Linked DNA regions of Homo sapiens. The protein of the gene in region 2 purifies or fractionates together with the protein of the main gene of each other region. This does not show direct contact. Each region holds a gene or a part of one and is shown on either strand. Other genes may lie near its edges.

Region 1 (3,500 bases), on a different chromosome or scaffold from region 2:
TGGGCTGGCTTTGTGAGATTTTGCAATTACTTACCTCTGTGGATTTTATTTGTAAAATAAGAAGATTGGATTAGCTGATCTAAAGATGCTTAATTCTTTGAAGAACAAGACCTGTCCTGTGATGACAGAAGGCAAGGTGAGACTAGTGTGTAAGAAATGGAGGTAGAAGCTGGGCATAGTGGCTCACACCTGTAATCCTAGCACTTCGGGAGGCTGAGGCAGGAGGATAGCTTGCATCCAGGAATTCAAGACCAGCATGGGCCAGACCGCGTCTCTACCAAAAAAAAAAAAACACACAAATTAGCTGGCATGGTAGTGTGAGCCTATAGTGCCAGCTATTCAGGAGACTGAGGTGGGAGGATTGCTTGAGCCCAGGAGGCTGCAGTGAGCCAAGAGATCCACTGCTCTCCAGCCTGGGTTACAAAAGTGAGACACTGTCTCAAAAGAAAAAAAAAAAAAAAAGAAATGGAGGTAGGCTGATGTCAGCAAAATATCAGAAAGAACTTAATGAGTAGGCCGGGCCCAGTAGCTCACGCCTGACTCCTGATTGTATGAGCTTATGTTTTAAAATACATTTTCTAGCCAGGCACAGTGGCTCATGCCTGTAATCCAGCACTTTGGGAGGCTGAGGCGGGCGGATCACTTGAGGCCAAGAGTTCGAGACCAGCCTGGCCAACATGGCAAAACACTGTCTCTACTAAAAATACAAAATTTAGCTGGGTGTGGTGGCACACACCTGTAATCCCAACTACTTGGGATGCTGAAACAGGAGAATCGCTTGAGCTGTGAGGTGGAGGTTGCAGTGAGCCGGGATTGCCCACTGTACTCCAGCCTGGGTAGCAGAGCAAGACTCTGTCTCAAAAAAAAAGACTGGGCACAGTGGCTCACGCCTGTAATCCCAGCACTTTGGGAGGCCAAGGTGGGTCGATCACGAGGTCAGGAGATCGAGACCATCCTGGCTAACAGTGAAACCCCGTCTCTACTAAAAAAAAATACAAAAAATTCGCTGGGTGTGCTGGTGTGCGCCTGTAGTCTCAGCTACTCAGGAGGCTGAGGCAGGAGAATTGCTTGAACCTGGAAGGCAGAGGTTGCAGTGAGCCGAGGTCACGCTATCGCACTCCAGCCTGGGTGACGTGAGACTCTAGCTCAAAAAAAAAAAAAAAAAAAAAAACTTAATGAATGGAGTGCTATATCACTGGAGGTACTCAGAGGCAGCAGGACCATCTGCTGAGAGAGGCACTACAGCAGATTGTTACTCTGTTGGGAGGAGTTTATGGCCCTTTCTAAATCCATTTTAGGTAATTATATGGATGTGAATGTAGAATATAAATTGTATGTGATTATAGATATGATTGTATCTTTTGTGTTAAAGATGTAATTTTATCCTTTCAGAGTATATCTGACATTGTGTCTTTTATAGTGTAGGGTAGTCCATTTTAATGCTATTTTAGATCAGTTAATAAGCAAAGTAATGTTGTTTTTTTTTGTTTTTTTTTTTGAGAGTCTTGCTGTGTCGCCCAGGCTGGAGTGCGGTGGCATGATCTCGGCTCAGTGCAAGCTCCGTCTCCCAGGTTCATGCCATTCTCCTGCCTCAGCAGGAGCTGGGACTACAGGCGCCTGCCACCAAGCCCAGCTATTTTTTTTGTATTTTTTTAGTAGAGACAGGGTTTCACTGCATTAGCCAGGATGGTCTCCATCTCCTGACCTCGTGATCCACCCACCTCCCAAAGTGCTGGGATTACAGGTGTGAGCCACCACGCCCGGCCGTAATCTGTCTATTTAAATTGAATAGGCATTTGACATTTGTTTATGCCTTCATTCGTATTTCCTATTTTTTCTTCTATAGGGGGAGGAGTTTTGGCCCACACAATACTAGGAGTTGCATGGAATGAGATTACAGGGCAGATAAAGTTTCTGATTCTAGATCCACATTATACCGGTGCTGAAGACCTGCAAGTTATTTTGGAAAAGGTAAGTATCCATTTAACACAAATTGAGACAAAAGGCAAAGAAGCTAGAAATGAAGGATCACAAACTGGCTGGTAACAGAAAGACAATAAGCTGAGGGCAGAGATCTCCCTGTGTGGAGGCCTTCTGAGGCTGTTGTAAGTAGCCGTCTCTGTATAGGGAATGTGCAAGAACAAAGCACATTGCAAAAGACAAAATTTAGGTTTATAGAAACTTTCTCAGCTATTAAAATTAATAATAGGACACACACTCATAAATATATTCCTTTGGAGATTTTAGAGCTTTCATAAACAAATGTATCAAAGTTTATCAATGTCTTAAAATAGATGAGCAGAATATATAAACTTTTAAAATTTTAGAATTAACCAAAAGATAGCTAAGCAGTATGCTAGACATTATGGAGGCTTGACTAATTTTAATTCATTTACATATAACCTAATCTCATTCTATAAAGGGTTTGAAGTTGATACATATTTAAGAGTATTCTTACTTACAATAGCAGATAAAGGAGGTAAAAATTTGTTAATTCATAGGCAACTAATTCTCACATATGAAAACTCAGTACCAAGTCTTTAGGAGAAAGTATTGTAAAACATAATTAACTTGAATTTTAAGTAACATTTATATTCGCTGCCAAATACATTGAAATTGCAGAGAATACATAACCACCTTTTAAACTATAAACTAAAGATAAAATGTTTTAATATGTTAAAGAGTTTTAAGCCAGGCGTGGTGGCTCACACCTGTAATCCCAGCACTTTGGGAGGCTGAGGTGGGCAGATCACCTGAGATCAGGAATTCGAGACCAGCCTGGCCAACATGGTGAAACCCCATCTCTACTAAAAATGCAAAAATAAGCCAGGTGTGGTGGTGGGCGCCTATAATCTTGGCTATTTGGGAGGCTGAGGCAGGGGAATCACTTGAACCCGGGAGGCAGAGGTTGCAGTGAGCTGAGATGGCGCCATTGCACCCCAGCCTGGGCAACAGGAGTGAAATTCCAGCTCAAAAAAAAGTTTTTAATGTGTGTAGTCCAACTCTGTTATATCCTCAGTTTACTGAAGTCTTTTGTTTATGATAAGGGTATAAACACTAATAGGATAGAAATGTGTTGTTACAGTTTTAAGTGTTTTTTTTTCCTTTTCTCTTTCACAGCATTTGGAATTTGAAGTCTATAAAAGGTTTTTTGACTGGTGCATGTATCTTACTGAATATAGTAGCAATATTCTTGTTCTGTAGCAAGGTGTTCATTCCATTCAGTATTTATTAAAGTACCTAACAAGTGCCAGGCACTGTCCTAAGCACTAGTATTACACGAGGTTTTTCGGGAGCTAAAACCTTTAGGGTAGGACAGAGAAGGAGAGTGCAAAAAGGACTCTCGAGAAAAAAAAAATGGTATCTCAGGTGCTTCTACGAGGCTGGTGCTGTGGTGGCCCCTGCCTTGTAGAAACAGTGAAAGCCGCACTGCAGGTAGATCAGTGCGTCCAGAGCTAGGCGAAGAGGTGAGGCTGGAAGGACACACCAAGCTCAGTCAG
Region 2 (3,043 bases):
CACCTGGGCCTATACCAATTCCTATCACTCACCGTCACTCCAGGGAGACAGAACACACAGAGAACACATTACACAGGCAGGTTCATTACTAACAGATAAGCAGCGAGTGACAACAGAAACCTACATTTCAATGTGAGCCAGTCCCTCAAGGCTCAGAAAAGCTGCTCGAGACATGTGGAGTCACCCCATATGCAGTGTATCTGGGGGAAATCAAAAAGCAGCCCAGCCTGGGTTTTGTACCCTGGAGCCACAGGAAGCACTCAGCTAAAGCACTGCATGACGTCCTCCTCCAGGAAGAACAGGAAGACAGCCCAGGCTGTTCTGGGATGTTCCTCCTGATCTCAGGACGTTGCTGTCTTAGTCCATTTTTGTTGCTCTAAAGGAACACTTGAGCCTGGGTAACTTCTAAAGACAAGAAATGTGTTTGCCTCACAGTTCTGCAGGCTGTACTGGAAGCATGGCACCAGCATCTATTTCTTGTGACGGCCTCAGGCTGCTCCCACTCTGGCAGAAGGGAAGGAGGGTCTGTCTGTGCAGAGACCACAGAGATCACACGGCAAGAGAGGGACCAAGGGGGAGGGGGAGCGATGGAGCTTCCAAGCTCTTTTAACAACCAGTTCTCCAGGAACTAATAGAGGGGGAACTTGCTAACCCCGTCTCCTTGGAACAGCATTGATCTGTTCATGATGGATCCACCTCCATGACCCAAACAACTCCCAAGAGGCCCAACCTCCCACTCTGGGGGTTACATTTCAATGTGAGGTTTGAAGGGGTCAAACATCTAAACTAAAGCAGTTGTATCCTCAGCACGTTCTATGGTTACTACAACTGAGAAAGCAGGAGGAAGCTAGGTCTCCCGCCATCTGGGTGCTTGTCCTAAAGAGACGTTGTATGTGGTTACCTGTCAATCAAGAAATGTGAGACAATTCATATAGAGGAACTGCTATGATTAGCTTCTTATTGGTGTCTTGTCTTCCTCCAGGTAACTCCAGAAACCTGCACGTTCTGATTGGGACCTCAGTGGTCATCATCCCCTTTGCTATCCTCCTCTTCTTTCTCCTTCATCGCTGGTGTGCCAACAAAAAGAGTAAGTCTCACGAAGCAGAAGCCAGAGAGCTCAGGGCCATGTGGGGAAGCAGGATGGGAGCACTCAGGTGTGTGTTCCTCACAGACTGGATGGTCCCTGGCCCAAGGCAGGAGCCACAGAGGCAGGACTTTCTAGAGAGAGCACCAGACTCCCTGCCTCTGCCTTCAGCTCACAGACCATTGCCTGATTCTGAACCGTATCCTCACATCCCCTGCAGCCACTCACATCCAGGAGAAGGTTCCATGACAGGCAGAAAGTGGGACACAGAATCAATAGGATGGGAACTCAGAGCTATACATGGGATGGATCCTTGAGCTCAGAGAGATAGAATGTCTGAGTCTGCTGTTGGCAACTGAGGGACCTCAGGCACCTATGGCCTCCCCCTGTATGTTGGTATCTGCTTATGAAATGAGGACCCAGAAGTGCCCTCCGAGCTGTTTTGACGACTTCCGTCTTCTACAGATGCTGTTGTAATGGACCAAGAGCCTGCAGGGAACAGAACAGTGAACAGGGAGGTAGGTGCTCCTCCGCCCAGCCTCGTGGCTAGTCTTATTCCCAAAGAGTCCTGGAAAATGTGAGCACCCTCCCTCACTCAGCATTTCCCTCCCTCCAGGACTCTGATGAACAAGACCCTCAGGAGGTGACATACGCACAGTTGAATCACTGCGTTTTCACACAGAGAAAAATCACTCGCCCTTCTCAGAGGCCCAAGACACCCCCAACAGATACCAGCGTGTAACACGGAACTTCCAAATGCTGAGCGCAGATCCAAAGTTGTCTTCTGTCCACTAGCACCACAGTCAGGCCTTGATGGGATCTTCTAGGGAGACAATAGCCCTGTCTCAAAACCGGGTTGCCAGCTCCCATGTACCAGCAGCTGGACTCTGAAGGCGTGAGTCTGCATCTTAGGGCATCGCTCTTCCTCACACCACGAATCTGAACATGCCTCTCTCTTGCTTACAAATGTCTAAGGTCCCCACTGCCTGCTGGAGAGAAAACACACTTGCTTAGCCCACAATTCTCCATTTCACTTGACCCCTGCCCACCTCTCCAACCTAACTGGCTTACTTCCTAGTCTACTTGAGGCTGCGATCACACTGAGGAACTCACAATTCCAAACATATAAGAGGCTCCCTCTTAACACGGCACTTAGATACGTGCTATTCCACCTTTCCTCAGAGTATCTTTCAGCCTTCTGTCAGCAGTAAAACTTATAAATTTTTTTTATAATTTCAATGTAGTTTTCTATTCTTCAAGTAAACATGTCTGCCCTCATGGTTTCTTCAATGGGACTCTTTTCTTGCCTAAGGCTTCCGGTGTTATCATTACCACGTCCACATAACCCCATCTGTTCTCCGCTGGGTTCTCAGCCCTGGACTCTGAGCTTCTGGAAGCATGGTGGAGCCTGAATTGTCTCTGAGACTCCAATTTCCATCCAAAGATGCAGCACATAGGAGGTTCCAAGGATGGTGAATCAGATGAACAAGTGATATTCTTACTCTCTGCAGATCTGGAAAGCTGGCAGAGTCATTCCACGATGAAACATTTGTAGAGTCATAGGCCTTGTTAGTCTCATCTCCACAGGGACACGTATCAACACATCATCTTTCATACTACTATAAATAGACAGTCACTCCTCCATATCTCTGGGGTTTACACATGTTTATTGAATCAGCAATAAATCAAAAATATTTTGAGAAAAAAAATCCCCGAAGTTTCAAAAAGCAAAAAACTATGTTGAATCGACACAAATTGAGTGGCGTGTAGGCTGTGTCAGGAATTATAAGTAATCAAGAGATGATTTCATGTATACAGGAGGATGTGCATGGGTTCTATGCAATTGCTATGCTATTTTTTTTTTTTTTTTGAGACAGTCTCACTCTCTCACCCAGGCTGGAGTGCAGTGGCGTGATCTCAACTCACTGCAACCTCCGCCTTCCAGGTTCAAGCGATTCT

What was found. Proteins that work in one complex are often made in the same cells at the same time.
Region 1: the proteins of KIR3DL3 (region 2) and UFSP2 purify together in Homo sapiens (affinity purification with mass spectrometry, with the first as the bait; one large-scale study listed by BioGRID). This does not show direct contact.

Annotation. Positions count from the first base shown.
Region 1 is NC_000004.12:185,401,965-185,405,464, reverse strand, and holds part of UFSP2 (ufm1-specific protease 2), read left to right. Parts: intron 1-1,846; coding exon 1,847-1,971; intron 1,972-3,500. UniProt on the Homo sapiens protein: Thiol-dependent isopeptidase that specifically cleaves UFM1, a ubiquitin-like modifier protein, from conjugated proteins, such as CD274/PD-L1, CYB5R3, DDRGK1, MRE11, RPL26/uL24, TRIP4 and RPL26/uL24.
Region 2 is NC_000019.10:54,734,271-54,737,313, forward strand, and holds the end of KIR3DL3 (killer cell immunoglobulin-like receptor 3DL3 precursor), read left to right. Parts: intron 1-982; coding exon 983-1,087; intron 1,088-1,549; coding exon 1,550-1,602; intron 1,603-1,700; coding exon 1,701-1,826; 3' UTR 1,827-2,362; downstream 2,363-3,043.